Linked DNA regions of Homo sapiens: all the other regions are linked to region 3. The links come from fine-mapping of genetic effects on gene expression. A gene starts in region 3. Each other region holds a variant in brackets. All regions are shown on one strand. Distances are from middle to middle.

Region 1 (10,680 bases), 510 kb after region 3:
GGCCTCAGCCTTTGGGTGAAAGATGGTGCCATTGATTGATATGGGGAGACTGGTGGAGGATGAGCTTTATGATGTTCACATCAGCCTCTGGACTTAGTGTTGTTTTATTCCCATTTTACAGATGTGGAGACCAAGGGGGAGAGAAGTAAAAAGTTTGCCCTAGGACCTGGCCAACAAGGTGAAACCTGTCTCTACTAAAATTATAAAAATTAGCCAGGCGTGGTGGTGCACGCCTGTGGTCCCAGCTACTTGGGAGGCTGATGCAGGAGAATCGCTCGAACTCAGGAGGCGGAGGTTGCAGTGAGCTGAGCTCGAACCACTGTACTCCAGCCTGGGTGACAGAGCAAGACTCCCTCTCAAAAAAAAAAAAAAAAAAAAAGGTTGCCCTAGGAAGAAGCTGAGCCAGAATTAGGATCCAAGTCTGATCTATGCCCAAGTCTTGCGTTTTCAATCATTTTTGCTGGACTCTGTACATATCTGCATTTACTCTCATTGCGAGATTGATACGAAAGTACCTGCAGAAATGCTTGGGAGATGTATCTGTTTTGTTGTTAGCATAGCTTTATTGCGGTATAATTTATATTCCATACAATTCACCCATTATATGTACACAGTTGTGTAATTTTTAGTAACTTTATAAGGGTGGGCAGCCTCCCCCCAGTCCAGTTTTTAGACTTTGCAGTCAGTTCCCCCTCCCACCCCCAGTCTTAGTTAATCAGTGATCTTTTCTCTTGTCTGTAGCGTTTTGCCTTTGTACAGGTAGAATCACAGTGTGGCCTCTCTCTTGGGTCTGGTTTTGTTCATGTAGCATAGTGTTTCTGAAGTCCATCCATTGTTGCCTAAGACATCTGCTTTTAAGGAACCTTCTTAGAGTTTGTCATCTATCATAAGAGATACCCTGTGCTGATGAGAAAAAGGTCCACTGAGATGTGCCTTAAGATGAGAATAAAAATAACAGTGGCCAGCATTTCCCGAGCATTTGTTATATGCCAGGCACAGTTATGGCCATTATTTTCTGTGATTTCTAGAAATCAGTTGTAGAGGCACCAACCAATGCAGTTCCATGAGAGGTGCCATGATCAGTGTTTTTCAACAAGGGAGGTTAAAAGCTTGCTCGGGGTTTTAAGAGCTGGGATCAGACTTGGGCCTTCTTCTCATGGAGCTGTGTCTTTACTGCTTCTTCACACGCCCTTCACCATGTGTTTGAGGCTTGTGTCTTCGTAGCCTCACAAAGAGATTGGGATTCCAGTTGGAGAATGCATTTGCCAGTTTTGTTTTTTTTTGTTTTTTTTTTTTTTTTGGCAGGGTCTTGCTCTGTCATGGAGGCTGGAGTGCAGCAGTGCCACCATAGCTCACTGCAGCCTTGAACTCCTGGGCTCAAGGGATCTTCCCACCTCAGCTTCCTGAGTAGCTAGGACTGCAGAGCGCTTCACCACTCTAATTTTTAAATTTTATATTTTGTAGAGATGAAGTCTTGTTCTGTTGCCCGGTTGGTCTTGAACTCCTGGCCTCAAGCAATCCTTTTGCGTTGGCCTCCCAAAGTACGGGTGTGAGCCACCGTGCCTGGCTGAAAATTGTAGTTTTAAGGGGAATATTTGTACTGAATTTTTATTTTGGCATTACCGTATGGAGATGATAGTGTCTTAAAGTGATCCATTTGTGAAGTATTCTTAGGCATAGTGTCAGAATGGCACCAAATTAAAAACACATAATTATGTCATCAGGCAGAGCCTGTGTGTTTGAGTTGTTTTAAATGTTGTGTTTACCAGAAATGCCATTTTTGTACAGAGTGCCCCAAGGCTGTTACCCTATTAATGAATGGAATTTAATTAGGCATCATGCATTTTTCAACATGTTTATCTAATTGTATTATGTATAATACATTTTACTCTCGAACAGTTCTATATCTAAACGGTATTTTTTCCTGCCACATATAGTCTATATTGGAAGATTTCATAGTTTTGTATTGCAGAGGAGTTCTTTGTATATCCCAAGAATTCTGAAATTTTGGAAAAGATTTTAAACACCTTACACACTCAAGTAGCTTGGTAAGAGCTGGTTACATAATTTTAGCCATGATAAGCAATAATTTTCTTTTTTTTTTTTTTGAGACAGATTCTCAGTCTCGTCCCCTGGCTGGAGTACAGTGGTGTGATCTCAGCTCACTGCAACCCCCACTTCCCAGGTTCAAGCGATTCTCCTGCCTCAGCCTCCTGAGTAGCTGGGATTACAGGTGCCCGCCACTGTGCCTGGCTAATTTTTGTTTATTTGTTAATTTTTATTTTTATTAGACATGGGGTTTCACCATATTGGCCAGGCTGGTCTCGAATTCCTGGCCTCAAGTGATCCGCCCACCTCAGCCTCCCAAAGTGCCACTGCGCCCGGCCAGCAGTAAACTTTCTTGAATAAGAATTAGTGTTACACTGGGTTCTACCCCTGGTTGCTGGTAGAACAGTTTTTACTGGTGTCACATCTTCCTAAACTTTCTCAAATGGAATTATGGTGTCGTTAAACTTATTTTTCACGTTTAGTATGTTTTTCTCTTTTAAGGATTTTTAATTATAATTTTAGTTTACTAGTTCAAAGTAGCAAACAAAAAAGCTTTTTATGTTAGAATACCTAGTTTTAAGAATAAAAATTAAGAATTAATAATATTAAATTTTAATTTAAAAAGACTTCGTTCAAATCTTTGTTGATCTCTTTATCTGGGTAGGACCCCAGGGAAGTCTGCCATTTTTTAAAATATTAACCCGCTGAATGGTGGGCCTTTGAAATGAGTGAAAGAGGTCAACCATTGTTCCATATTTGTTGGGCAATTCCAGGCAGTGCAGTGGCCAGTTAGAAATCCTCACGACTTGAGCTGGAAGCCTGGGGGAAAGTAGGATTTGGGGGCAGAGGTAGGTACTGGAATGGTGCAGTGAAGAAGCTGTTATCTTCCGTTGCCAAGGGACTCTGTTCAGCTTTAATCTGTGTCCTGGCTGGACGGTGCATGTCAGCTGCCCAGGCTACCAGTGTGCAGGGCGCAGGAGTTAGAAGCAGGCCCCAGTCTGTTTCTTTTTCCATTCCAGAATCGCTTCTGACTGGCACATGCCTTGAAGAGAGGAGATATTATCTTGCAAAACTGATCCAAGTAAAATTGAAATTGCAGGGAGTAAAAATTGGGCTGTACATGTAATGCATGCACTTTATGCAAGTTATGCCTCAATTATATATTTTTAAAAAGATACACGAAAAACAAAGCCAAACTACAAAACCCCTGGGTAGAAATGCAGGATTAGACACTGTTAAGGATGCAAAATCTAAGCCACCTGTTAGGTGTTGTCTCTTTTTCTCCCCTTTCACTTCAGAGGTGCCTTGTTTTGATTCACGTGATAAATTGACTCTGGACAGACCTGTGATTTTATGCTTTTTTATGTGAATGGCTTTCCCATGAAGCCTCAGAGTTGCTACGAACCTGCTGGCAAAAATTTCCAGCAAAGGAACCTGTACATTTCCGCACTAGTAGCCCCAGGAACTGCCTCTTCCTTTGCCAAAGCTGAATCATCTTACCTGAGGGTTTCTTGGTCCTGAGCTGGGTGTGGCCCAGCCATTCATAGCCTAGTTTCTGTGCTGGGCCCTGACCTTTCAACTCGGGGATGGCTGGGCATGCAGTTTGGGAAATCAGATGGCACGGGATCGGGGAAGCCCAGGGATCTGCTGAACTTCCCACCTCCCCAGCATTGATTTCATCCCTTATTCACTTAGAAATGGCTTTTCTTAAGGACCAGGATTTGAACAAAGTCTGTCCAATGCATTTGATGGTTATGCCTTTTAAAGCTGTATACATATAGAACAGTTCCTTTACCCCCACCCCTTCCCCCCATGCTATTGACTTGTTGAAGGAATCAGGTCACTTGTTCCGTAGAATGTTCCACATTCTGGATTTGGGTGCTGGGTTTCTTTTAAACTCATCCCACTAGTCCCTGTATTTCTGTAAACTGGAAGTTATCATGAAAGCTTGATCAGATTCATGTGCAGTGTTTTTGGCAGGATTAATTTGTTGGTATCATCTGGCTTAACGTTGCCTCAGCTTAGGAAAAGGTCTGACTGTCTCACGTGTAGTGATTCTAAAACTGAGCGTTGGGGTCCTGTGGTGGGTGGCAGCTTGACCCTTTCATTTCCTCATCGATCTTTCTCCCAATGCCGTTAGCATTCATCGATGACTGTTGTTTGAATTAATTATTTCATTAGAGATTGTTGATTCTTCTCTCTTAATGAGATGGCAGTGAGCATGAGATGAGATTTAAACTGACCAGGGTATCGGGGAAAACTGACAACATTGATACAGCTTAGGGGCATCTACAGAATTCACAGAAAAAAGCAAAGATTGGCTTGGCTCTTGCAGTTACTGTGAGCGCCTCCTGTTATTAAAGTTAATTACCGTTTGCACGGTCTTCTGTGGATGTTACCCTGTCAGGTTAATTTTGTTATTTAAGTCTTGAGTTGCAGCAATATTAAATTCTGTGCATATGTGCTAACTCTCTTTTTTATGTAACTTGGGTGCCTGTTCACCTAAGTTAGGAGAGAATGACCTAGGTTTAGGAGGTAGAATTCCCCGTGATGGTGCAGACCATGATAGAGAGTATCTTTTTCAATTGTCATTTTAAATTTTCTGACTTGTAAGGAGACATTCATGCTCAGTCTTTTCTTATAAAAGATCAGTCATTGATGAGTTTAAGATAACTAGAGGAGAATGATACATCTGAAATAGTTTTGTGTTTTCTTCTGCAAACATACGGAAGAAATGGATCTTTTTTTTTTTTTTTTTTTTTTGAGATGGAGTTTTGCTCTTGTTGCCCAGGCTGGAGTGCAGTGGAACGATCTCGGCTCACTGCAACCTCCGCCTCCTGGATTCATGTGATTCTCCTGCCTCAGCCTCTCAAGTAGCTGGGATTACAGGCACGTGCTACCACACCCATCTAATTTTGTGTTTTTTTTTTTTTAGTAGAGACAGGGTTTCTCCATGTTGGTCAGGCTGGTCTCGAATTTCTGACCTTGGGTGATCCGCCTGCCTCACCCTCCCAAAGTGCTGGGATTACAGGCATGAGCCACTACGCCTGGCTGAGAAATGGATCTCTTAATGGCACCTCTCAACTTCATTGTTAAGAGTGTTTGGAGAGGGTAGATACTTGAATTGTTTCTGTTAGGAAGAAATTGAGAGTTCCTTTGGAAGAAGCATGATCGTAGCGAATGAATTTAATTTACATATGCTCCATCAGCACCAGGCTGCACGGTGACATACTACATCCGCAGTTTGATTTTGGGACAACTTCCATACTTGAAGGCTACCAGAATGGAAATATATTGATTCTAACTATCATGGGCAAGCCTGTCTTTTGCCACAATGTGTTGTTTGAAACCTATTTGTTAAAAGGATCATTATAAAGTAGGTTCTAGGATTCCCATAGTCACAGTCTCATTCTGAGGAGTCGTGCTGTTGACCAAACACTTGATTTCATATAAATCATGGCTGTGACCAATAAGTCCTAAAAGAAAGATGTGAAAACTAGAAACGTGGAAGAGTTTGAAATCATAAATGTTGCTTCTGTTGTCAGAGAGGTCTTGAGCTTGGAGAAGCCATAGAAATGAAGAGGTCATCTAATCAAGATTCTTCATTTTTGGTGAATAAACCAACGCTTAGATGTGTTAAATTGCTTGCCCAAGACCACACAGCTAATGATTTGTAGAGTTGGAACCAAAACTCATCCTGGAATAAGGACCATTAGTACGTTAAGTGTTTCTTTTGAACATGTTAAATGCTTCTTACATGCATCATTTTTGGATCCTCATGACAACCCTGTGATTTAGGACTGTAATTGGTTTTATTTTCTGAGGAGGATGTTGAGGCATAGAGACATTGAATATCTTGCCCAGGATCACCCAGGACTGAGATATATTCACTGCAAAGAATGTGCTTTTCTTTTTTTTAATTTTTAAAATTTTTAAATTTTGCTTTATGTTCTGGGCTACATGTGCAGTACATGCAGGATTCTTACATAGGTATACATGTGCCACGGTGGTTTGGCGCACCCATCAATCTGTCATCTAGGTTTTAAGCCCCGCATACATTTGGTATTTGTCCTAATGCTTTCCCTCCCCTTGCCCCTCATCCCCCAAGAATGTACTCTTATTCACCCTATGGTGTACTGCCTTCTGATTCATTCAGTCATTCATTTCTTCCTTGTTATTATTATTACTGTTTAAAATTCATTATTTCGTGTTAAAGGAATGCCTTATTCCTAACAGCCCAGAAACATTGCCTTTCAAGGACTTTCCATATACTCTTAAAATCTATATTTTTAAAAACCTACCAGCTCTAATTATTGCAGATATAGTCAGTGGAAATCACTAGCTATAATAAATGTTATTTGAATAATTGGTAATTGTGCCTGGCTTACTAGTATTTGAAAAAGCTTTCAGATTATAGATGGTTCAGGACTCTTATAAGATGTCTAGGTAAGTTTGAACTGATAGTTTCTTTCTTTTGATAAATGTCCTATGCCAACCTACAGCTTTAAAAATAATTCCTTTGACCATTCTTTTAAAAAGTCACCACTTACTCTTTTTTTTCTTTTCTTTTTTTTTTTTTGAGACAGTCTCGGTGTGTCACCTAGGCTGTAGTGCAGTGATGTTATCTCGGCTCACTGCAACCTCCTGGGCTCAAGTGATTCTCCTGCCTCAGCCTCCCAAGTAGCTGAGACCACCGGCATGCACCACCACACCCGGCTAATTTTTGTATTTTTAGTAAGGATGGGGTTTCACCACGTTGACCAGGCTGGTCT[C/T]GAACTCCTGACCTCAAGTGATCTGCCTGCTTTGGCCTCCCAAAGTGCTGGGATTACAGGCGTGAGTCACTGCGCCCAGCCTCACCACTTATTCTTTAAATTCTTGGAAACATCATGAAGGAATCAACTTGGGATGGGTTTGGAGCCCTCCTTCTCTCTCTTCTTCCTCCTTTTCACTCCCCTTCAGTAACAGTAACATCCTGGGGAGCTCTGAAGCTGAGATTTCATAAAGATCAGATGTGTTTTTGGGAGACAGCGTGTGTGGGGTGATGGGTGGGGAGGAGTGGAGGTGAGAAGTCACCCTGTGGCATGGGAGAGGATGTTTGATGTTGATTTTCTGAGTGTCAGCCTCCTGTTTCTCAGGACGGTTGGTTGACTGTCTTTTTCTCTACTTGCGCTGCCCACAAAGAGCCAGATGTGGGTGCCTCCGGGGGTTTATGGGACCCACTTACCTGTGTGAAGCTGGCTTACAGAGAGGGGAGAATGGGTAGACCCTGGTAGCGTCCAGGGAGACTTTCACGTGGGCGTGGTTTGTACTCTGACCCACTGGTGACTTTAAACAATTTGTCATCAAATACCACAGTTGGCTTTGCAGCTATCTGGTATTTGTGCCTGGAGTAGGTTTGTTTGTTTTGTTTTAAATGCTTCTAAATTACAATTCTTTGTGAGCTTCCTGTTTCCTACTTACAGCTGAAATATGTGATGACTGACTCTACCAGGACTGCTTTTTTCCCCTTTTCTGCATTTGTGCTGGAAACAGAACAGCTTGCACGCACAGCCTGGAGCATGTTGCCTGCATGTGCTTCTTGGTGGACGTGAGCACATGGCTGACTAATTTCAAAAACCGCCTATTTATATCCTCTTCAGAAGCGCTGTCAGACATTAGGCACTCTCTCTACTAACGTCACGTCGATTAATATGGATTTTAAAATGGAAGTAAATTATTTTTTACTCATGGGTGAGTCATTAGATAGTCTTTTTTAAATATACATCCCACCATTTCTCTCAAGGGTGTCACACTGGTAATTGTCCCATGCTGGAGTTTTCAGCAGTTATCATAGGATTGAGTGCAGGAGGAGGCTGTGGAGAACACCTAACCCTCTGATTTTATAGATGAAATGACAGCCCAGGGTTGCTGAATTACTGAGAGCTCAAAGCTCCTTGGTGCAAATCTAGGACTAGAGCTCTCTCCTCCCGTAGCTTCGAATTGAGCACAGTGTCCTTTACTGTCACCCACCTTGCCTCACCCTACCTACCCCACATGCTGGCACTTGCCACCACAAAAGAATAAAAACAAGGACAGGAAACAAAACTTCCTAGTTGCTAGGGTTGTGGTGACGATTTTATAGCAGAAAAGAAAATAATGTTTAAGATATGTAATCCTAAAGAAACTGTCTTTTTTTGGATGTTTGTGTAAGACAAATTCTTATTCATACTAATGGAAAGTCTTAAAAACATTAAACATGAAAAATAGTTGTTCATACCATGAAAATAAGCCTAGGCATTTATTTAAATGTATGAGAACTATCTTTGTCGACTGTGTCTGTTGTCCACATTTTGACTTCTAGGGCTAAGCAACTTCCCGCGATTGGATAAATATGGGAGTTCTTTCTAAATAAATATATGAGAATATATTTCTGTGCATAAATACATGAGAATAAATACATGAGTACCTGCATTGTGTCTTACACTGTCATTATCCTCAGGCTTTTTTCAGATGTATGTTGTCATTTATTAGTTCCGACACTGGCGCATTAGAAGGACGATGAACTTTTTGCTAGATAGACCTAGGTGGCATGTCGTAAGTGCTTTTATCTTGGTGAGTTCAAGTTTTCTCATCTCTGCAGTGTGACTATTATCAGGCAGGAAAAGCACCTGGCACAGTGCCTGTACACAGGTGTGAACAGAGGTTAGTGTCTGCTCCCCCAAGGTGGTGTTGTGATGTGATGTCATACGTGATTGTTTACACTCTCACCTGATGGGCGAGACTATTCCATTCTCATAGGACTCAATGAGAGAGAGTTTGTCCCAGGATTGGGGTGAATGTTTCACCTATATCATCCTCTTGGGCCTTCTCCACCTGAAATGTAGCCTAGTTTGATAAGCAGTGGTAGAATACAGAGACAGGTTAGGAACCTGGTGGGGGTAGAGGGTCCATACTGGAGCTCTGGGATCTAATTGGAGAGTGGAGGAGCGACCCTGGGCTCAAAGGTATGGCTGTCTTCATCCATTTGGGCTGCTGTAACAAATACCACAGACGGGGTGGCTTAAACAGCATTTATTTCTCACAGTTCTGGAGGTTGGGAACTCCAAGATCAAAGATGCTGGCAGATTTGGTGTCTGGTGAGGGCTCCCTTCGTGTTTTGTAGAAGGCCACCTTTTTGCTGTATCCCCACATGGTGGAGAGGGAGATCATCTGCCTGGTGTCTCTTTTTCTAAGGGCACTAATCCCATTCATGAGGGCTCCACTTCTATGACTTAATTACTTCCCCTAAGCCCCACTTCCAAATATCATCACGTTGGGATTAGGGCTTAAATAATATGAATTTATGGTGGAGGAGGAAAAAATATTCAGTCCATAGCCATGGCCAAGGTGAGCAGAGGCTTCAAGTCTATGGGCAGGCAGGATTCTCATCTCATATATTTTTTTCTTTTATTTTTAAATCTACCACAGAGACGTTCTTTGCTACAGGTAGGATTCTTAAAAGCAAAGCAGTGTTCTGAAGAGAAGGTGGGTTTTCAGTGGCCTGGGATGGAGGAGGATAAGGAGGATGTGAGTTGTAGAAGTGAGAGTGAGGCTGAAGGTCAGGAATTGAACTAGCACATGAGGAATTCGGGTCAGGAGGTCACCAGTAACCAGGAGTTGACAGTGATGCGGACTCAGTGCCCTTGCCCAGGTATTTTGTTGCTTGCTGGGTTCCTGTTTATGCAGGAGCTGATTGCTGGCTGGGAGCACCCCTGCACGCCCAAGCAAGAGGGATCCAGGGTCAGCAGTTAGTGGCAGGAGAACCCCCTGAGGGTGCCTTGTATGCAGGGAGAGTGCATTTCCTGTTTGGTTTGGGACGAGCCTGGTCCAGGTGTAATTAGTAACAGAGGCTTCCTCCTTACTCAGCAATGACTGCTGTGGTCGACAATTAATATGGTCACCCTACTCACGAGTACTTGGTTGCAGAGAAGTATTTGTTATGTGTATGAGTGAAGATCCTGACCAAAGATTTGACCACACAAGGTTCTGTGGTGAGTCCATGGTTTACCTGTCTCATGGGCGGAGCTTGGCTGCCTCTCTTTGTGTACTTGTTATTTGAATTCCAAAGAACGTTCTGCGCCACACTTTTCAGAGCTCTTTTCTCCCAGTGTGTGTTTTAGATGGCCGTCTGTTTTGTCATTGATAAGCTAATTCTGTAAACCTCAGGGCAGCTGCACATGCAGCATCTGTAATTGCACCTCTGTAATTGGCTGGAGTGCTCGAGAGACTGTACTTGCTTTTCCTGGCGCCCCCCAGGGTCCGTGGCTTCACCTAAAGGCTTGGTGGCAGGGACTGGTGAGAGAGGGAAGAGGAAGAGAGGAGGGAGAGGATTCTTGGTCTTCTACTCATCAGCCTGGTTGACAGGGGCTGGGAAAGTCTGATTCTTAGTTGACTGCCGGGAAGATGGGGCTTGCGAGAGTGGAGGGGGCTGAGGTGGGGTCCAGGTGTTACTAGTGGAGGGTGTCCAGGTTCTTGGCATTTTGAACAAAGAATTGGACAAAACGCACAAACAAAGCAAGGAAAGAATGAAGCAACAAAAGCAGAAATTTATTGAAAACAAAAGTACACTCTACAGGGTGGGAGCGGGCTGGGCATAGGGGCTCAAGAGCCCGG
Region 2 (10,680 bases), 61 kb before region 3:
CAGCTGTGTGGTATCAGTGGGAAAATGCAGAAACATTATGACTTGCAATAAGTTTTTCTTATGGAAAATTTAGGGATAACTCAAAGCTGCCCTTTCTGAAATTTGATCTGTTATCAACTGTATAAATCTAAATGGAAAAATAGATTAACGACAGTCTTTGCCTGAGGGACCTCCTCAAATCAAGAACTACTGTTTGAAATGATCAAGTGTCTGCTAAGACTTGCATCTGAATGGGTGATGTCACCCTTTGGCCCAGAACAAATTTTTTCCAGGGTTGTCTAAATATAGGACACATACTTTGCCATCTTTGTTTGTTAGTGCAAATGTACGTTATACATCTATACTAGTTAAAATCACTTTATTTTAACAGAACCAAGTTCTACTCCAAGTTCAAGAAATTGATTGTTGTTTTCTTTGAAAACATGTTAATGACGTTTTAAAAATACGCTTATTCAAAAATCAAACAATAGGGCCAGGTGTGGTGGCTCATGCCTGTCATCCCAGTGCTTTGGGAAGCCAAGGTGGAGGATCGCTTGAGGCCAAGAATTCAAGATCAACCTGGGGAACATAGCAAGACCCTATCTCGATGAAATAAAAAATGAGCTAGACATGGTGGTGCATGCGTATAGTTCCAGCTACTTGGGAGGCTGAGATGGGAGAATTGCTTCAGCCCAGAGAGCTGTGATCGCACTACTGTACTCCAGCCTGGGCAACAGAATGAGACTCTGTCTAAAAATATACATATATATATATCTCTCTCTTATATGTATATATTTATATATATCACATATATAAATATCAAAAGATATCAAATATATAGATATATAAATATCAAATATATAGAGATATATAAATATCAAATACAGATATATAATATCAAATACATAGAGATATATAAATCAAATATATATATAAATAAAATATATATATATATCAAACAATAAGGTATATAAGGTAGAGTGAAAGCCCCTGGTCACCTTATTTCCCAGAGCTGTCACCACTGATAGTTTAATGAACTCACTTTTTAATATGTGTGTGTGTTTAACATCGCTGGGATCTTACTGTACCTGGGTGCATTTGTTACCATGTATGTTTCGCTGACTCTTATTGTTGTGTGCTGGAACTTTCTGGGGTGATAGTAATCCAGTTGGGCAGTCATCAACACATGGAGCACTTGCATGTGACAAGTGTGACTGAGCTGAATGTTTTTATTTTATTTGAATTAATTTAAATTTAAATAGCTCCATGTGACTAGTGGCTATCATACTGGACAGCTCAGATCATATTCAGTCTTTGAATTTTGTTTATAAGCTTTCTTGGTACTCAAAAATTTCTGTATTTTATTTCCTGTCTTTGGTAGAATATGTCTAGTTTTCATTCTTTTTTTCTTCTGTGGATTATCTGTACACTTTTTTTTTTTTTTTTTTTTTGAGACAAGGTCTCACTCTGTCATCTGGGCTGGAGTGCAGTGGCACAATCTCAGCTCACTACAGCCTTGACCTCCTGGACTCAAGTGATCCTCCCACCTCAGCCTCTCAAGTAGCTAGGACTACAGGCACATGCCACCACACCTGGCTAATTTTTGTATTTTTGTAGAGACAGGGTCTCACTATGTTGTCTAGGCTGGTCTCGAACTCCTGAACTCAAGCAGTTCACCCACCTCCGTCTCCCAAAGTGTTGGGACTACAGGCGTGAGCCACCGTGCCCGGCGATCTGTACATTTTGAACAAGTATGTTTTCATCTATATTTCTTTATCCATATCAAAAAATTAACCACTATTTAAAATATTCTACCATCTCACAAGAAAAATCATGTAGGATATTTTGACTTCTTTTCATTTCCTAGGTTTAATTGAAATAACCTGGAATTGTAATTCTTTTATTTTTGCCCTTGTGTCACTAGAGACTTTTTTCTTAACTATTACATGTTTCACATTCCTGTTAACAAAAACATTTTAGACTTTCCTGACAGCTTTATTGTTTTTATGGGTTTCCATCGTTCTTTATAAAACACATCCTCCCGGCCAGGCGTGGTGGCTCGCACCTGTAATCCCAGCACTTTGGGAGGCCGGGGTGGGCGGATCACCTGAGGTCAGGAGTTCGAGACCAGCCTGGACAACATGGTGAAACCCCATCTCTACTAAAAATACAAAAAAACATTAGCCAGGTGTGGTGGCGGGCGTATGTAATCTCAGCTACTCGGGAGGCTGAGGCAGGCAGGAGAATCACTTGAACCCAGGAGGTGGAGGTTGCAGTGAGTCGAGATTGCACCATTGCACTCCAGCCTGGGCGACAGAGCAAGACTCTGTCTCAAAAAAATAAAAGTAAAAAATAAAACACATCCTGTCTTTTTCTTCTTTAACAGCATTCTCACATGATTTTTTTTCTTAGAGTGCGTGGATGATGTATTTTGAGTTCTTGCATGTCTGAAAATGCCATTCTTTTCCCCTCCCACATAATACATAGCCTGGGTGTGCATGTGACTCTATGATAACAATCGTTTTCCTTGAAACTCCATAAACGTTTTAATATCTTCCAGTATTTACTGGTACAGATGTTGTTTTCTTTGTGTTTTTTTTTTTTTTTTTTTTTTTTTTTTTGATTTTTGAGGCAGAGTCTCGCTCTGTCACCCAGGCCAGGCTGGTCTCGAACTCCTGACCTTGACCTCAGGTGATCCACCTGACTCGGTTCCCCAAAGTGCTGGGACTACAGGTGTGAGCCACTGTGCCTGGCCAGATGCTGTTTTCTCTGCTTCTCTGTCTTTTATAGGTAATCTTATTCTTTTTGTCTGTTTTAACTTGTTTTCAGTCTAGAAGCTTCTGGCATTTTTTCCCTGTTGTTCTATTACCAAAGGGTTTCCATGTCCTTTCACATGCTGGGATCGCCTGTCCTTTATTTTTTATTTTTTGCAATGGAGTCTTACTCTGTTGCCCAGGCTGGAGTGCAGTGTCGTCATCTTTGCTCACTGCAACGTCCACCTCCCAGGTTCAAGCGATTCTCCTGCCTCAGCCTCCCAAGTAGGCAGGATTATAGACGCACACTACCATGCCTAGCTAATTTTTGTATTTTTAGTAGAGACGGGGTTTCACCACGTTGGCCGGCTGGTCTCGAACTCCTGACCTCAAGGAATCTCCCCACCTCAGCCTCCCAAAGTGCTGGGATTACAGGTGTGAGCCACTGCACCTGGCACCTTTCCTTTACTATCTAAACAAAATGGCCTGAGCTGATACATGTTCATGGGGGTTTCTTGGGGTCTTAAGTTTTCATGGTCCTCAGGCACACCCACACTGCAGCCAACTTGCCCCATCACCGGGCTCCTTGTGCCTGTGTGTCCTTAGGGTGCTCTTTTTCTTCAACATTTGACCTTGGGTGGAACACGGTTATCTTCAGTTCTGTGTCTCTCACCACCCTCCTCCCAGGAATCACTAAAATCCAGCTATTGTGCACAGCATTTGCTGAAGCGTTTGTGGCTAATGGGGAGGGAGGGAGGTCTGATTACAGAGTAGCGCAGAAAACAACTTTGAATTCAGTGTCAGACATCATTGTTCACCAAGAGGAATTTGTTACTGCTCACGCCTTTCTGTGGGTCATGGCTTCCTCTGCTTCTGAGAGTGTCTCCTGATCTTTCTTCTCCTCTTCTCTAAGTTCAAGGTCAGCCCAAATGTCCTTTCTTTCATGAAGCCTTCCGCAGCCACTATGACCAAAGGCGCTGACCCCTGCCGGAAGCCCTGTAGCTCTTAGTGAGTGTATCTTTCCCGTGACATCTTTCCCAGTTGCTCTCACCTCATCTCCCCAGCCCTCTGCTCGGGAAGACCCTCATTCTCCTGCCCCAAGCTGTGGCTCCTAGAGGTGAGTTCCTTGTCCACAATCACAAATGGGAGATGTGGGTCTTTGCGTCTGTTGCTTAATGTGTGTGTAGCATCTACCAACCAGCTAGAGTAAAAGGTTTTATTTTGCTGGGCGCAGTGGCTCACGCCTGTAATCCCAGCACTTTGGGAGGCCGAGGCGGGTGGATCACCTGAGGTCAGTAGTTCGAGAGCAGCCTGGGCTACATGGTGAAACCCCATCTCTACTGAAAATACAAAAATCAGTCTGGCACGATGGCGGGCACCTGTAATCCCAGCTAATCGGGAGGCTGAGGCAGAATTGCTTGAACCCGAGAGATGGAGATCACTTTATAAGCACATACTGCAGTGAGCCGAGATTGTGCCACTGTACTCCAGTGAGCCTGGGCGACAGTGAGACTCTGTCTCAATAAATAAATAAATAAATAAATA[AATAAATAT/T]TTTAAGGAGGTTTTATTTAAATATACAATAGGTTATCTGAAAATAAAGTATGGCTGGACTTTATTAGAATTAAACATTATAGAAAGTCAAGTACCCAAGGTCCATCTGTCTTTCTAACCTCTCTCCCTTTCTGTCTCAGTCTCTGTCAACTAGACTGCCCCAAGCATCTGTTCCTTAGTTCAGATTCTCCAGAAAGGATCTCACTGGTTTCTGGCCAAGAAAGGGATTATCCAGGCATGATCCAGTCCACTGTGATGGAGAAGGGAAAGGGAGGGGTAGAAGAGAATTGTGTGGTACAACATGGCCACTGAGGGCCACACCTTTGGTGAGACCTGTGGGCAAAGGGAGTTTTCAGGGAAGGACATAGTGAACAATGCTGGCACCTTGCTGGGACTGAATTGTATCTCCCTGCCAATTCATATGTTGAAGCCTAAATCCCCAACGTGATGGTGTCTGGAGGTGGCACCTTTGGGGGGTAAATAGCTTACAAGGGTGGAGTCCCCATGAATCGGATCAGTGTATGCTTATAAAGAGATAGAGTCCAGTGCTTTGTTGCTCTGCCAAGAATAAGGCCCTCACCAAAAACCTGACCCTGCTGGCACCCTGATCTTGGTGGACTTCCAGCCTCCAGAACTGTAAGAAATAAATGTCTTTTCTTTAAGTAATCAGTCTATCGTATTCTGTAATAGCAGGCTGAACTAAGACACACCTCAAAACATGTTTGCAGAACACAGCGTGTCTGCCTGTCTACTCACAGGTAGATTGTGTGCATGGAGACAGCACTTTCAGTCTCCAATCCTTGCAATACCTGGTACCTTGCATGTGTTTGTAACTTACTAAAGATTTGCAGAATGGATTCCAATAGCTCTTAATTCCCATTGACAAATTTATTTCAAATTGTCTTTATTTTATATGCATTAAGAATATGTGAAGGCTTTTCTTTTTCTACTTCTCATTGAGAGGACTTTGGCTGTAGAGTTTTTAGTTTTGGTCTGCTATATAGGGCCCAACATTTTTAAATGGTAACTAATTTTTTGACCTCTTGGCATATGCTTATGTATTTTTCTTTTTTTTTTTTTTGAGACAGAGTATCTCTCTGTTACCCAGGCTGGAGTGCAGTGGCGTGATCTTGGCTCACTGCAACCTCCACCTCCTGGGTTCAGGAGATTCTCCTGCCTCAGCCTCCCAAGTAGCTGGGATTACAGGCGCCTGCCACCATGCCCGGCTAATTTTTGTATTTTTAGTAGAAATGGATTTTTGCCATGTTGGCCAGGATGGTCTTGAACTCCTGACCTCAAGTGATCCGCCCTCCTTTGGCCTCCCAAAGTGCTGGGTCTACAAGCGTGAGCCACCGTGCCCAGCCTTATATATTTTCCCTGGTTGACTCATTACAATAACAAATGAAGAGATTGTGGCTTATCAGTTTTAATAAGTTATCCAGGCCATAACTCAAATTCAAACTTAGCTTTTAAGTCTATCTGACTGTAAATCTGTTGCTTTTCACTAAACTACAGTCTCTTGGACTCTCAATAAGAGTAATTTGATAATGTCTCAAGGTCTTTTTCTTTATAAGTCATAGATTGATTACCAACCTGAACACCTTTGGAGCCAAAATTCACCAGTGTAATGGGTCAATGAATTAATTTTTTTAAAATCATACATTTCTTTGCTTAAAGAATATTGCAAATCAATAATTAGGAACTCTTTTGTCTCTAGTTCCTTAAAGGACTCCTTTTATTTTATAGCATCAGTGTACTTAGTAACAAGTTTTTTTCTTTTTTGCTTCTTTCATGGCTTAATCATCTCTTTTCTGACTGCCTTACCTGTAGCCTTGTACATATCAGCACCCCTTTCTCTGGAGCCTCTGCCCCCTGCCCCCAGCATCACCATCATTCAGAGTTCCACGAAGCCAGGTTCCTGTGAGAAGTGACATGGCCCACGGAATCTGGTTTTTCATCTCCTGGGTGAAAGCGCTGCCGGGAGGTACCCACTTCAGCCCTCTTGTACCCCATTGCTGCAGCCTATGCCCAGTCTGCCCTGGATGGTGGCTCTTTGTGGATGCTTTGAGTAAGTTAGTGGCCTGTCATGCTTTCCCAGCCTTAGGAGAAAACCTGGTTGGAGTCGAGGACTGAATTTGGATGTCACCTTTACAGTTTCTGTTTTGTTTAGTGCGCTTCTGTTCCTGGCTTAAACTCACAGTGCCCCGGGGAAATAGGGACTTCTTTATTTCCGTAGCTGTGTTCTCTCAGTGTTCCAGCTCATATAGTACCTTCCCAGAGAAGGTTGGGGATTCAGTTAACATAAGAAATTCCCATAGTTTTTTCCTTTAGTGTTTCTTTTTTTGGGAGGGCAGGGGGATAGTTGTTCTTCACTACTTTAGGGGTATTTATTAACATTTTAAGAAAACTGAAGAAAGAACCAGTGAAAGCAGAGTGCTTATTTTGGTTTCCAAATGAAGTTTTTAAAAAGTTCTTTTTGCGAAACCTTTTTTTTTTTTGTTGAGACAGAGTCTAGCTCTGTCGCTCAGGCTGGAGTGCAGTGGCGCAATCTCGGCTCACTGCAACCTCCGCCTCCCGGGTTCACGCAATTCTCCTGCCTCAGCCTCCTGAGTAGCTGGGATTACAGGCATGTGCCACCACGTATGGCTAATTTTTGTATTTTTAGTAGAATGGGGTTTCACCATGTTGGTCAGGCTGGTCTCAAACTCCTGACCTTGTGATCCTCCCGCCTCGACCTCCCAAAGTGCTTAGATTACAGGCGTGAGCCACCGCGCCTGGCCTGAAACCACATTTTTAATGTAGAACATTCGAATGAATCACTAAGCAAAAACGCCATGCCTTGGTATATTCATATATACATTTTCCTATTTATAAATATTTACAAAAATGCAAATATGGTAGCCTCCGCCCCGTATTAGTCCGTTCTCATGCTGCTATAAGGATGTACGTTAGACCGGGTAATTTTTAAAGGAAGAGGTTTAATTGACTCACAGTTCTGCATAGTTGGAGAAGCCTTAGGAAACTTACACTCATGGCAGAAGGGGAAGCAAACACATCCTTCTTCACAGGGTGGCAGGAGAGAGAAGAATGAGAGTGAGGGGGGTGAAAGCCCTTTATAAAATCGTCAGATTTCATGAGAACTCATTCCCTGTCATGAGTACAGCATGAGGGTAACCGCCCCCATGATTCAGTTACTTCCCTCCAGGTCCCTCCCATAACACATGGGGATTATGGGAACTACAGTTCAATATGAGATTTGGATGGGGACACACCCAAACCACATCACCGCCTTATCTGTGATTTTGCTTTCTGCAGTTTCAGTTACCCTTGGTCAACGTTGGTTCAAAAATATTCAATGGAAAATTCCAGAAACAATTCCTAAGTTCTAAATTTCATGCCCTTCCAAGTAGCATGATGAAATCTGGGGCCATCCCACCCTGTCCCGCCCTGGATGCGACTTTTCTCTTTGCCAGCGTCCCCGCCTGCAGGTCACTTAGTAGCCATCTCTGTGATCAAATTCACTGTCTTGGAATCACAGTGCTTGTGGTCAAGTGACCCTTACTTTACTTCCATGGCCCTAAAGCACAAGAGGAGTGGCACTGGCAATTTGGATACACCATAGAGAAGCCATAAAGTGCTTTCTTAAGTGAAAAGGTGAAAGTTCTCAATAAGAAAAGAAGATCACATACTGTGGTTGTAAGAAGGAATCCTTGGGGCCAGGTGCAGTGGCTCATGTCTATAATCCCACCACTTTGGGAGGCCAAGGTGGGAGGATCACTTGAGCCCAGGAGTTCGAGATCAGTCTGGGTAATATAGCAAGATCCTGCCTCTACAAAAAAAAAAAAAAAAAAAAAAAAAAAACTAGCCCGGCATAGTGGCATACACCTGTACTCCTAGCTACTCAGGAGGCTGAGGCGGGAGGATCACTTGAGCCCGGAAGTTCAAGGCTGCAGTGAGCTATGATTGCATCACTGCACTTCAGCCTGGATGACAGAGTGAGACCCAATCTCTTAAAAAAACACAACAAAAAAGGCTTTGCAGACGCCACCGCCACCAGGAGCCCTGTACTACCAGCCATGGTCAACCCCACCATGTTCTTCAACATCGCCATCAACAGCGAGGCCTTGGGGCACGTCTCCTTCGAACTGTTTGCAGACAAGTTTCCAAAGACAGAAAACTTTCGTGCTCTGAGCACTGGAGAGAAAGGATTTGGTTATAAGGGTTCCTGCTTTCACAGAATTATTCTAGGGCTTTTGTGTCAGGGTGGTGACTTTACATGCCATAATGGCACTGGTGGCAAGTCTGTCTACAGGGAGAAATTTGATGATGAGAACTTCATTCTGAAGCATACAGGTCCTGGCATCTTGTCCATGAAGCATACAGGTCCTGGCATCTTGTCCATGGCAAATGCTGGACCCAACACAAACGATTCCCAGATTTTCATCTGCACTGCCAAGACCGAGTGGTTGGATGGCAAGCATGTGGTCTCTGGCAGGGTGAAAGAAGGCATCAAGATTGTGGAGGCCATGAAGCGCTATGGGTCCAAGAATGGCAAGAGCAGGAAGAAGATCACCACTGCTGACTGTGGACAACTCTAATAAGTTTGACTTGTGTTTTATCTTAACCACCAGACCATTCCTTTTGTAGCTCAGAAGAACACCCTCCACCCCATTTGCTCGCAGTATCCTAGAATCTTTGTGCTCTCACTGCATTTCCCTTTGGGTTCCATGTTTTCCTTGCCCCCTTCCATGCCTAGCTGGATTGCAGAGTTAAGTTTATGACTATGAAATAAAAACTAACAAAAAATAATAATAATCTACCCATAAAATTGTGAAAAAGGAAAAATACCTTTGTGCATAGGCTATGAAGTTTAGGAGTGGGTACTAGCCATGGTTTTAGGCATCTCCTGGGAGACTTGGAACGCCTTCTTGAGGATAAGGGGCACCTACTGTATACTGTTTGTATTCATCTGTTGTCATTTGAAAGGAACTGAATGTCTTTCCAGGTCACCACACAGCCTGCACCTGAGTCAGGTCAATTGGCTGGCCATCCCGTCATGTGGTTCTACACAGGGTACCATTATTTATTTAGTCCCCTATTGCTGGACCCTCATGGCCAAGGCTGCCAGTGGGCCCCTTCTTCCACAGTGACAGTTTGTTCTGGGCACCTGGAGGGCCCCACTCATCCCTCCTGCTGGCTGGGATATGTGTACCAGTGGTAGGAAGTCATCCCACAGCACCTGCACCAAGCCAGCATCCTGGGGGCAGGGGAGACAGGACAGAGGGAGCCAGCCCTGCTGTCATTTTAGGGCACAAATTCCCCACTGAGGGATGCAGAGACCTTTTCACGAAAGATAAATGTGCTTGTGTTGTGAGCGGCTGTTATTTTGGGACTGGAGCCCACGCAGCTCAACCTGTATACTAACTAATAAAACGTCTGTGTGTAAGCCAGGTGCGGCGGCTCACGCCTGTAATCCCAGCACTTTGGGGGGCGAGGCGGGTGGATCACGAGATCAGGAGATCGAGACCATCCTGGCTAACACAGTGAAACCCCGTCTCTACTAAAAATACAAAAAAAAAATTAGCCGGGCGTGGTGGCGGGCACCTGTAGTCCCAGCTACTCAGGAGGCTGAGGCAGGAGAATGGTGTGAACCTGGGAGGCGGAGCTTGCAGTGAGCCGAGATTGGCCACTGCACTCCAGCCTGGGCGACAGAACGAGACTCTGTCTCAAAAAAAAAATAAAATAAAATAAAATAAAACAAAACATCTGTGTGTAGCTTTGGCCTTAGAGACATTTTCGTGTTTTCATTATGTTACTTTTTGAATAAGTAGTGTGACGTATTCAGAGGTCAGCTGTGTGGTACAAAATTCAAAAGCCATCAATGGGAGGCAACGAAGTTAAGTCTCATTCTCCCTGCGCTGAACTTCTCCCCCATAGGCAGCTCCTGTTGTGGACTCTTGGTGTGTCCTTCCAGTGGTGGCAAGGATGGGAGCATGTGCACATGTGTGCCTCTGCAGGCCTTCAACACAAATGGCAGCATGCCTCTTGATTTTTCACTAACAGCATATCCTGGAGGTCTTTATATATCAAAATACGTAGATCAACCTCCTTTTAGTTTTATTGTATTTTTTTAGAGATGGCGGAGGGGAGGTCTCACTGTGTTACCCAGGCTGGCCTGGAACTCCTGACTTCAAGTGATCCTCTGGAGTTGCTGGGATTACAGGCGTGAGCCACCATGTTCAGCTCCAACCTCCTTTTTAAAAAGGCGGTGTGTGGGTCCTTTCCACTCAGAGACTCCTCTCTCTATATATAGAGAGAGCTGTTTCTCTTTCCCTTCTCTTCTATTAAACCTCCATTCCATAAAAAAAAGGGGGGCTGCTGTATATTGTAGCATT
Region 3 (10,249 bases):
CTGAGGTGGGAAGATCACTTGAGCCCAGGAGGTCAAGGATGCAGTGAGCGTGATTGTGCCACCACACTCCAGCCCAGTAACACATCTGACCCTGTCTGCAAAAAAAAAAAAAAAAAAATGATCTGAGCACCTCCAGTATGCAAGTGGTGTTCTAGGTCCTGGGGCTCACAGTAAGCAAGACCCGATGTCCACCCACGTAGAGCTCCCAATCTGCAAATACTCTGGTGGCCTCTGCCATTCACAACCAATCAGGTGTGATATTTTAAAGAACTGAACAGTCATCTCATGATTAAAACTTCAAATAACACTGTCACGTCCACTTTTGTAAGTCTCCCCACCTCCCAGGGCCCTAAATTTCTTGAATATCCTTCCTACAGCATTTGATACATATGCAGGCATACACTCCCTTTTTTTTGTTTTTTGAGACGGAGTTTTGCTCTTGTTGCCTAGGCTGGAGTGCAATGGCATGATCTCAGCTTATTGCAACCTCTGCCTCCCAGATTCAAGCGATTCTCCTGCCACAGCCTCCGGAGTAGCTGGGATTATAGGTGCCCAACACCACGCCTGGCTAATTTTTGTATTTTTAGTAGAGATGGGGTTCACCATGTTGGCCAGGCGGGTCTCGAACTCCTGACCTCAGGTGATTCACCCACCTCAGCTTCCCAGAGTGCTGGGATTACAGGAACGAGCCACCACTCCCGGCCAGTCCTCCTTTTTAGGGGGACCCCGAGCTGACTTCTCTGGCTGGCAATTCCATGAAGACTAGGGAAATGTAATGAAATTTAAAGATACTAATCCATTGAGGAAAAATGAGTAGAAGGATGCTTAATGGGGAAAATGTTATAAACTATTGGTCCAGAGGGCATATCCTTTTATCCTTCCCAGAGGCAACTACACACTCCCTTCTCTTCCCTCAGTTTTCTTCCCTTCCTTCCTGGGGCTCAGCTAGAATCACAGGGACCCACCTGGCAAAACTAAAGGAAGTTATATCCTTTGCATTTATACTACCACTTACTAGGCTGGCAGCTGATGTTGAAGGCAAGTGTGTCTGTGCAGTGTATCGCTGTATAAAGCACTCTCTCCATGTATTATTTGCTTCTTACAGCATTCCTATAGAATCCCCCAATGTGTGCATTAGGAAACTGACTCACTGCCTAAAGTCACAACTAGTTTTCCAAATCCAAGTTTTCTGTTCTTTCAATCCTTGCTACACCTCAAAAATAACCTGTGGCTTCTTAAAACATGCAGATGCTTGGTCCTCAACCCAGATCTACTGAATTGGAATCTTCAATAATAAGGCCTGGGCATCTGTGCTTATAAAAAGCTGCCCCAGGCCGGGTGCAGTGGCTCACGCCAGTAACCAAAGCACATTGGGAGCCCAAGGCGGGCGGATCATAAGGTCAGGAGTTCGAGACCAGCCTGGCCAATATGGCGAAATCCCGTCTCTACTAAAAAATACAAAAAAATTAGCCAGGCATGGTGGTGCCTGCCTGTAATCCCAGCTACTTGGAGGCTGAGGCAGGAGAATCTCTTGAATCCAGGAGACGGAGGTTGTAGTGAGTCAAGATCGCGCCACTGCATTCTAGCCTGGGCGACAGCAAGACTCCATATCAAAAAAAAAAAAAAAGTTGCCCTCGTGAATCTGATTCAGAGCCGGAATCAGGAACCACTGGTGTAGGACAGGGTGTTTCCACACTGGACAGCCCCGAGAAAGGGCCCCCTGAGCGCTATTGGTCTCTGATATTCTTCCCAGACACTTTCCCACAGAAAAGCCAAATTCAGCTCCTTAGGGTGAGAGATCACACCCTGGTCATCTCGGTACAGCAATCCTGGAGACTTCTGGGGCCTAAGCTGCTTCCTTCACGGTGGCCACACTGTGTCCCCTGACCCCATTATCTCTATGCTCCCCTAGAGCTCAGGAAATCAGGAAGAAAAGTGGCTCATCCAGATGCAATGCAGTGACTGTGAGGGGCTGGCATCAGGTTCAAAGTGGTCAGGAAGAGGGAAATAAGTGACAGGGGGTGAAACAAATAGGATGGGGCAGAGCTCTTGCCAACTGCAAGTCAGATGATGTCTCCACATCCAAACACCACAGAATAAATACTTAAAATCATGCTCCAGAGGGATCACAAAACAGGCTATAAACTTGTCCCACCTGCAGAATCTGCTGGGGCGATAAAGAGAGCCAAGTAGTCTGGATAAGCATAATCTCACGCAATATAATCCAGAAACAAAGTACTGACTGATAAGATTTTATAGCTTTAGAGAAAGAGAGAAAAATAGGCTTTGCTGAGGGCCCTTTAGAGCTGTCTCAAGAGGCCTCTGCTGCCTGTAGATCAAGGGCAAACTCTTTTTACTAGACAGTCTTGCCCTGTCACCTGGCAGTAGTGCAGTCGTTCGATCATGGCTCACTGCAGCCTTGAACTTCTGGGTTCAAGCAATCCTCCCACCTCAGCCTCATGCTGAATAGCTGGGATTATAGGCGCATACCACCAAGCCCAGAAAATTTTTTTAATTTTTAAATTTTCTGTATAGGCTGGGCACGGTGGCTCACACCTGTAATCCCAGCACTTTGGGAGGACAAGCTGGACAGATCACTTGAGGTCAGGAGTTCGAGACCAGCCTGGCAAATATGGTGAAACCCAGTCTCTACTAAAAATACAAAAATTAGCCAGGAGTGCTGGTGCACACCTGTAATCCCAGCTACTTAGGTGGGTGGCTGAGGTAGGGGAATTGCTTGAACCCAGAAGGCGGAGGCTGCAATGAGCCGTAATTGCACCACTGTGCTCCAGCCTGGGCAATGGAGTAAGACTCCGTCTTAAAAAAAAAAAAAAAAGAAATTCTATAGAGACAAGGTCTTGCTTTGTTGCCTGGGCTGGTCTTCAACTCCTAGGCTCAGGCAATCCCGTAGCCTCGGCCTCCCCAAAAGTACTGGGATTGAGGGCATGAGCTACCATGCCCCGCCTAAACTCTAATGTGACATAAAAGGCCCTCCACACTCCAGCTCAATCTCCCACTTAGGCCCTCTTTCTCCTTAGGCCCCACCAAGCACAAGTCCTCAACACCGAACAACATACTATTTAATGAGGCCAGCATTTTCCCACCTGCAAGTCTTTATACACATTAGTCCCTCTGCCTGGAATACCACTCCCACCCTCAGCCGCAGGCCCCTTCCTTTCTTCAACAAATATTTATCGATTATCCACGATGTGCCAGGCCATAAAGATTAAGTATTTTTTCTCACAGACCTCATGAGCTTAGAGTCCACGAGGAAAAAATATTAGCAAGTAATTATACAATAAAGCCTGATGCACATGAAGGTCAGGGAACAGTATGCTTAGGGAACATCCAGCAGAGGCCTAGCTTAGTTGAGGGGGGTGGGAAAAGGCAGTCCTCACAGAGGAACTTTTTTTTTTTTTTTTTTTTTTGAGACGGAGTCTCATTCTGTCGCCAGGCTGAAGTGCAGTGGCACAATCTCGGCTCACTGCATCCTCCGCCTCCAGGGTTCAAGCGATTCTCCTGCCTCAGACTCCCGAGTAGCTGGGACTACAGGCACGGGCCATCACGCCCGGCTAATTCTTGTATTTTTAGTAGAGACGGGGTTTCACCATGTTGGCCAGGATGGTCTCGATCTCCTGACTTTGTGATCCGCCCGCCTCGGCCTCCCAAAGTGCTGGGACTACAGGCGTGAGCCACCGCGCCGGGCCGGACCTCTTAACCTACATCTAAACAATGCCTACCAAAGGAAGTATGGAGTAAAGAAAGGTATCTCAGTATTAAAAGAAATAAGTTGGCTGGCGAGGTGGCTCACGCCTGTAATCCCAGCACTTTGGGAAGCCCAGGCGGGCGGATCACTTGAGGTCAGTAGATCGAGACTAGCCTGACCAACGTGGTGACCCGTCTCTACTAAAAATACGAAAATTAGCCGGGCGTGGTGGCAGGCGCCTGTAGTCCCAGCTACTCGGGAGGCTGAGGCAGGAGAATCGCTTGAACCCGGCAGGCGGAGGTTGCAGTGAGCCGGAATCGCGCCACTGCACTCCAGCCTGGGCGACTGCTATGTCTCAAAAAAAAAAAAAAAAAAAAAAACACGTTCAAATAAGTTCAATGTGGCTGGGGCAGAGATGCTAGAGAAAGCGGTGAGAAACTAGGAAAGGTGGGTAAGGACCAGATAATGAAGACCTTTGCAAGCGTTCCAGTGTGAAGCAACTTTAACATCTAAAGCAGAGGTGTCGTGATTAGAAAGACGTTATAGATCTTTGTGGATCTGGGCAAAGGAAGAGTCCCCGAGCAGCAAAGACGCTCCTGGAGTCGTCCAGGTTAGAAATGACGGTGGCCTGCACTAGAGACGCCGCAGAAAGGACTGGAGAAAAATACATGTTAGTCGGAAAAGAAGGTAGAATCTCCCGACACAGTAGTGACCAGCTGGAAGTAAAGTTGAGAACGGTATTGGTGGTGACTCCCGGTTTCTGGATCCCGCCGGTAGCCGAGGGGCGACGGCCGACCCAAAGCTCACCTCCCCACTGCACGCCGCCCCTGGATCGAGTACCTTGGTGCTTTACTATTTAGCACACGGAAGTGTTGTTCTGTTGTCCGTGTCTCCTTGGAGACCGTGGAGAACAGAAGGGCCGGCGGGGGTTTTCGCTTTGTACTCCTGGTGCCCAGCCGGCGCTGCAATCCAGCAGAGGAGCCGGACTAGAAACGCGGAAGCTCTGGGTGCACGCGCCCGGCCCGGGACTGGGCGGCCCAACCGGGAGGGCGGCGGGTCCTGCGGCCACGCAACAGGCGTTGGGGAAGCAGCAGAGACCCTGCGTGCGCGCGGGCTTCGGCCTCCAGATTCCGCAGAGTCCCGGGCCCGATCCCCCCGGGGCTGGCCTCCTGCCCTACGTGGGCCCCGCGCGCCCACCTGGAACTCACGATGGCGAATCCGTGGTCACCTGAAGGCAACAGCACCGGCGCCCAGTGCGCCTGCGCCGCGCGTGCGCAGAGCCCTCGCCTCCCGGCCTCGCCTCGCAGACGCGACGGGCCGGGGAGGAAGCGCTCGGAGCAGTGCAGGTTTCGTTATCCTGTGTTAGGTCACTCCGGAGAGGGGAAAGCGGCCCACAGCGTCGCGCGACCCGGAAACGACACAACGAGGCCCAATCTTTTAGACTCGAGTTTAGGCCCCGGGGTGGAGTCTCCGGACCGGGTCCCCCCACCCCCGCTACAGGGGCAGTGCGCAGGCGCGAGGTATGTATCGCGAGACCATGCGGTTGCCCGGGTAACCAGACGCTCAGGACTTGGACCGTCCAGTTGTTCGGAGGCCAGCCTATAGCCAATGGTATCCCGAGGGCTCGCTCTCTCCGGGCGTTTGTGCTCCCCTCTCTCTTCTAACCCAGTTTCTACCTTTCAGTGCTTTGGAATCTTAGCCCTCTGTCTCTATTCGCTTTTCTGTATTTGCCTTGCCTCAGGGACGCACAACCCCAGCCCCTGTCCCAGTGAGCCCGTCGCCATGGAATCCCTGCAGACTCCCCAGCACCGCGAAAATCAAGATAAAAGGGAGAAGGAGTATGGGGTAAAACACATGCCTATGGGCAATAATGCAGGGAATCTTGAGCCCGAAAAGAGAAAGGCAGTAAGAGTTGCCTTGAGTTCAGCAACAGCTGCACAGAATATCCCGTCCAGTGTCCACTGTGGCTGCTCCAAGCAATGGAGACTCAGGCTACCATCGGAGTCGCTGCAAAGTCGGGGACAAGTGATGAAGCGGCCGAATAACATTTTAAAGCTCAGGAATCTGGATCTGTTGATCTACCCTTGGCCAGAACTTAGAAGACGGCAGGTTGCTTCTGACCTAATGAGCCTCCTCCTTCTCCCCGCTTTTTCCGGCCTTACTTGGGCCCCCTTCCTTTTCCTCTTTACGTATCTGCCTCCTTTTCTCAATCTCCTCACTGTTGGTTTTGTATCCTATTTTCTGGTATAGTTTCTGTGATTTCTTTCTTTTATTTATTATTATTATTGTTGTTGAGACAGAGTTTTGCCCTTGTTGCCCAGGCTGGAGTGCAATGGCGCGAACCTGGCTCACTCCAGCCAGCGCCTCACAGGTTCAGGTGATTCTCCTGCCTCAGCCTCCGGAGTAGCTGGGGTTACAGGCACGGGCCACCAGCCCAGCTAATTTTTGTATTTTTAGTACAGACGGTGTTTCACCATGTTAGTCAGGCTGGTCTCGAACTCCTGACCTCAGGTGATCCGCCCACCTCGGCCTTCCAAAGTGCTGGGATTACAGGCATGAGCTACTGTGCCCAGCCTCTATGATTTCAATTTTCATGTTTAAGTACCTATGTAGAACCTAACTGTCCATAAGTAAACACAACAAAAAAAAGATTTGGCTTTTGGTCAAAGATCATTGGAGGTTACACAGGGTAAAGTGCAGTATGATTTTTATCACAATTAGAAAGATTAAAAAGAGATGACAGTGAGTTTGTGAGAACAGGTTTGTGTTTCATAAAATGAATTGTGTGAGTTAGCTATGATGAACTGCAAGCAGCTTGCATTTCCAAAGACAAATAGAGACACAGGAATCTAATTAAAATGCTAAAGTAATGGGAAGGAGACATCCATACGTTTTTGTCCCCCTAAGGTTCCAGATTTATAGTTTGAGCATCATCTCGGCTTACATTTTCTCTGTGGAAAACATCAGCCATTACATTACTTGGCTCTGGGTTGAAATCCTAACTTCATCAACTGAAGATCTTATGACCTAGGCAAGTTTATTAACCTCCTCTATGACGTGATAAAAATAGTATCTCTTGTGCGGATTAGAAGACATGTTCCTCTATGCTAAGATGATTATTATGTGCGGAACACATAGTTAAGTGCTTGATAAATTGAACTATGGCAAATCCAGTCTCAACCGTGGCAAAACTAAGTTAATAAAAATGAAACATAACCTTTATTATTTTAGTGCTTGTGTTTTATTTTAAAACTAGCAGTATAATTTCCACGAGGATTTTGCTAAAATTAACAAGTACATTTCGAAAGTAATTTCTGTCCCTCTTGTATCACACAAACATTACAACCAAAAAGTAAAAAACATTCTCCCATGACCCAATCACACCCATTTTTTTCTTTAGTGTTCCCTTCTACTTTGTTTCACATATGTGCATGCTTTTACATTAAACTAATACAGATTAAGTCTTCTGATTTTCTTTACACATAACGCTTTTTCATGTTTCTCAAATTATTACTTTACATATTTGATATCCTATTCTGAAGAAACGGTTTTTTTTTTTTGGAGACAGGGTCTTGCTCTGTTGCCCAGGCTAAAGTGCAGTGGCACCATCTCAGCTCACTGCAACCTCCTCCCAAGCTCAAGTGATCCTCCCACCTCAGCCTCCTGAGTAGCTGGGACTACAGGAGCATGCCACCATGCCTGGCTAATTTTTGTACTTTTTGTAGAGACGGGGTCTTGCCATGTTGCTCAGGCTGGTCTCAAACTCCTGGGCTCAAGTAATGCTCCTACCTTGGCCTCCCAGAGTGCTGGGATTACAGATGTGCACCACCACACCTGCCAGTTTTACTTTTTAATGACAGTTGTTTTATCCTGTAAAATCTGTTTGGTCTTTGTATATTAGAGCTTTCTTTTTATATTAATTCTAGAATTGGACTACTGTTTGATTTGTATGCTTTCCATTATTTGACAATGACTTAAGATTCTGAGTGATGGCCGGCTGTGGTGGCTCACACCTGTAATCCCAGCACTTTGGGAGGCTGAGGCAGGAGGATTGCTTGAGCCCGGGAGTTCAAGACCAGCCTAGGCAACATGACGAAACCCCGTCTCTACAGAAAAAAAAAAAAAAAAAATTAGCTGGGCATGGTGGTGTGTGCCTGTAGTCCCAGCCACTCCTGAGGCTGAGGCAGGAGGATTGCTTGAGCATAGAAGGTGGAGGCTACAGTGAGCTATGATCACACCACTGCACTCTAGCCTGGGCAACAGAGTGAGACCCTGTCTCCAAAACAAATAAATAAAAAGATTCTGAGTAATAAATTAGATCATTAGCCACAATCCTTTGATGAAATAAGTGAAGGTCCCAACAAGAAAATTTGTCAATAGAAGAATGTAAGGGAATTGACCACCAGATTCTTCTTTTCCTCCATGGTATTCTGACCTTAGCTGTGTGTGTGTGTTTGTGTGTGTGTGTGTGTGTGTGTGTGTGTGTGTGTTATGTAACAGTAGTTGTTATGTAAACAATTCATTATTTTAAATCAGTTACTAAGAATAAACTTTAATGATGAGATGCAAAATGAATACTGAAAGCTTTACTAATTGGAACGGTATAGTACTCCAAAGAATATCTGTGTCCATAGAGACAAGTGAAGGTGAGGAGTTTCAAGCAGTTGAGCAATTCGCAGGTCTCACAAAACAGCAAAATCAAGACCAACATGATGTCAGCTCCCTGCATCTCTAATCCCATGGGACAGCATTCCCAATCTCAGAGGTCAGATGACAGGTCTTATGAGTGGTGGGTCACTCTGTCGAGGAACAAACTAAACTTCAGCAAGCAGTTCTACAGATTTACACAGAAGCCTGCGGCTCCATCCTAAAGTGGAGCAGGTTGTAGGGGGTGCGGAGAAAGAAGGGGAAGATGGAAAGCCCTAGTCTCAACTAAACTAGGGACATGGATGAGAAACAGCCTTGTGAGACTCTCCCACAAGATAGGGAAGCCCTGTGGGCAAGGTCATCCCTGAGCTGAATGGGAACCTCCCTGGCATGGCCTTTTGTGTCCCCACTGCCAACGTGTCAGTTGTGGGCCTGAACTGCCATCTGGAAAAACCTGCCAAATAGGATGACATCAGGAAGGTGGTGAAGCAGGCTTCAGAGGGCTCTTCAAGGGCATCCCGGGCTACACCGAGCACCAGGTCATCTCCTCCAACTTCAACAGTGACACCCACTCTTTCACCTTCGATGCTGGAGCTGGCATTGCCCTCGACGACCACTTTGTCAAGCACATTTCCTGATATGACAGTGAGTTTGGCTACAGCAACAGGGTGGCGGAGCCCACATGGCCTCCAAGGAGTAAGACCCCCGGACCACCAGCCCCAGTGAGAGCACGAGAGGACGAGAGAGGCTCTCACTGCTGCGGAGTCCCTGCCCCACTCAGCCCCCGCCCCCACTGAGAATCTCCCCTCCTCACAGTTTCCACGCAGACGCCCTGAAGAGGGAGACACCATGGGAGCCTCACCTTGTCGTGTACCATCAATAAAGTTTCCTGCACTCAATCAAAAAAAAAAAAAAAAAAAAAAGGGAAGCCTTGCCTTGCTCCCAGGGAAATCACAGGCATTCGGCGAGGACTCAGGGTAGACCGCAGTCAGGCCTTGGCTCTGTGGCTATGTGGAGATGTCCAAGGTTGTCAGGGGTCTCAGCAGTGCTGTTTTATGAAAACGGGGAAATTTGAAAGACATTTAATCCTTCCTTTTTATCCCCCTCCTCCCTTTCTTCCCCCCCCCCCCGCCTTTTCCTACAGGTACAATATTCATTGAATTTTAAGTGTTGGGGATAAAGTGGTGAGCCAGAGTTCTAAAGGAGGAGAAACGGTAAACAAAGTAAACGATTTAAGTTGTCAGATGATTCAAAGTGCTACAGAAAAAAAGCAGGGAAGGCCAGGCGCGGTGGCTCATGCCTGTAATCCCAGCACTTTGGGAGGCCAAGGTGGGCAGATCACTTGAGGTCAGGAGTTCAAGACCAGCCTCGCCAACATGGTGAAACCTCGTCTCTACTAAAAATACAAAAATTAGTTGGGCATGGTGGCGCACACCTGTAATTCCAGCTACTCGGGAGGCTGAGGTAGGAGAATCACTTGAACCTGGGAGGCAGAAGTTGCAGTGAGTCCAGATCATGCCACTGCACCCCAGCCTGGGTGATAGAGTGAGACTGTATCTCAGAAAAAAACAAAAGCAACACGAAAAAGCAGGTAAGAGTGGAAGGGGGTGCTAGGATGGGTGATAAAAGGCCTCCTGAGATGACAGATGAGCAAAGACCTAGAGGAGTGGAAGCACTGAGCCAGGCCGACCCTGGGAAGATAATTCTGAGGTAGAGACGGGAGAGCAGCAGTGCGACAGGCCTGTTAGAACAGCCGGGAGGCCAAGTGGAGCGGAAGCCCTTTGAAGGCAGGTAAGAATGAGAACAGAAGAAAGACGGAGAGAGATGGCCAGAGGCTCATAGACGAGAAGACCAGGCTAAAGCTATTTCTTGTCTCAAAGTCTTCCTGGAGGTGTT

Which allele goes with the higher level. Alleles are on the strand shown, and positions count from the first base shown. SD is a standard deviation of normalised expression in the study named. Not every link is listed here.
With allele AATAAATAT in place of T in region 2, the expression in monocytes after Pam3CSK4 of the gene that starts at base 4,994 in region 3 is lower (large effect, 1.2 SD a copy in Quach 2016).

Evidence for each region. PIP is the estimated chance that this variant, and not a neighbour inherited with it, causes the effect.
Region 1: its variant is fine-mapped to the expression of RPP38-DT in spleen (GTEx, PIP 0.95).
Region 2: its variant is fine-mapped to the expression of RPP38-DT in monocytes after Pam3CSK4 (Quach 2016, PIP 0.95).

Annotation. Positions count from the first base shown.
Region 1 is chr10:14,585,122-14,595,801 of GRCh38, reverse strand. The region is part of intron 2 of FAM107B (family with sequence similarity 107 member B); the gene reads left to right. Among named protein-coding and RNA genes, the nearest start is that of MIR1265, 150 kb to the right of the region's middle. RefSeq lists enhancers at 1-273, 7,325-7,524. The variant C/T (reference allele first, on the strand shown) is at 6,822.
Region 2 is chr10:15,153,002-15,163,681 of GRCh38, reverse strand. The region is part of intron 1 of NMT2 (N-myristoyltransferase 2); the gene reads left to right. It also overlaps the pseudogene PPIAP30. Among named protein-coding and RNA genes, the nearest start is that of NMT2, 10 kb to the left of the region's middle. The variant AATAAATAT/T (reference allele first, on the strand shown) is at 4,278.
Region 3 is chr10:15,092,064-15,102,312 of GRCh38, reverse strand. It overlaps RPP38-DT (RPP38 divergent transcript), which reads left to right and starts at 4,994. Exons shown (of 2, transcript NR_160789.1): 1 at 4,994-5,226; 2 at 5,448-6,928. RPP38 (ribonuclease P/MRP subunit p38) reads right to left here and starts at 4,958. Exons shown (of 3, transcript NM_183005.5): 1 at 4,547-4,958; 2 at 1-95. It also overlaps the pseudogene GAPDHP45. RefSeq lists enhancers at 4,251-4,390, 4,451-4,540, 4,842-5,413 and a silencer at 4,681-5,040.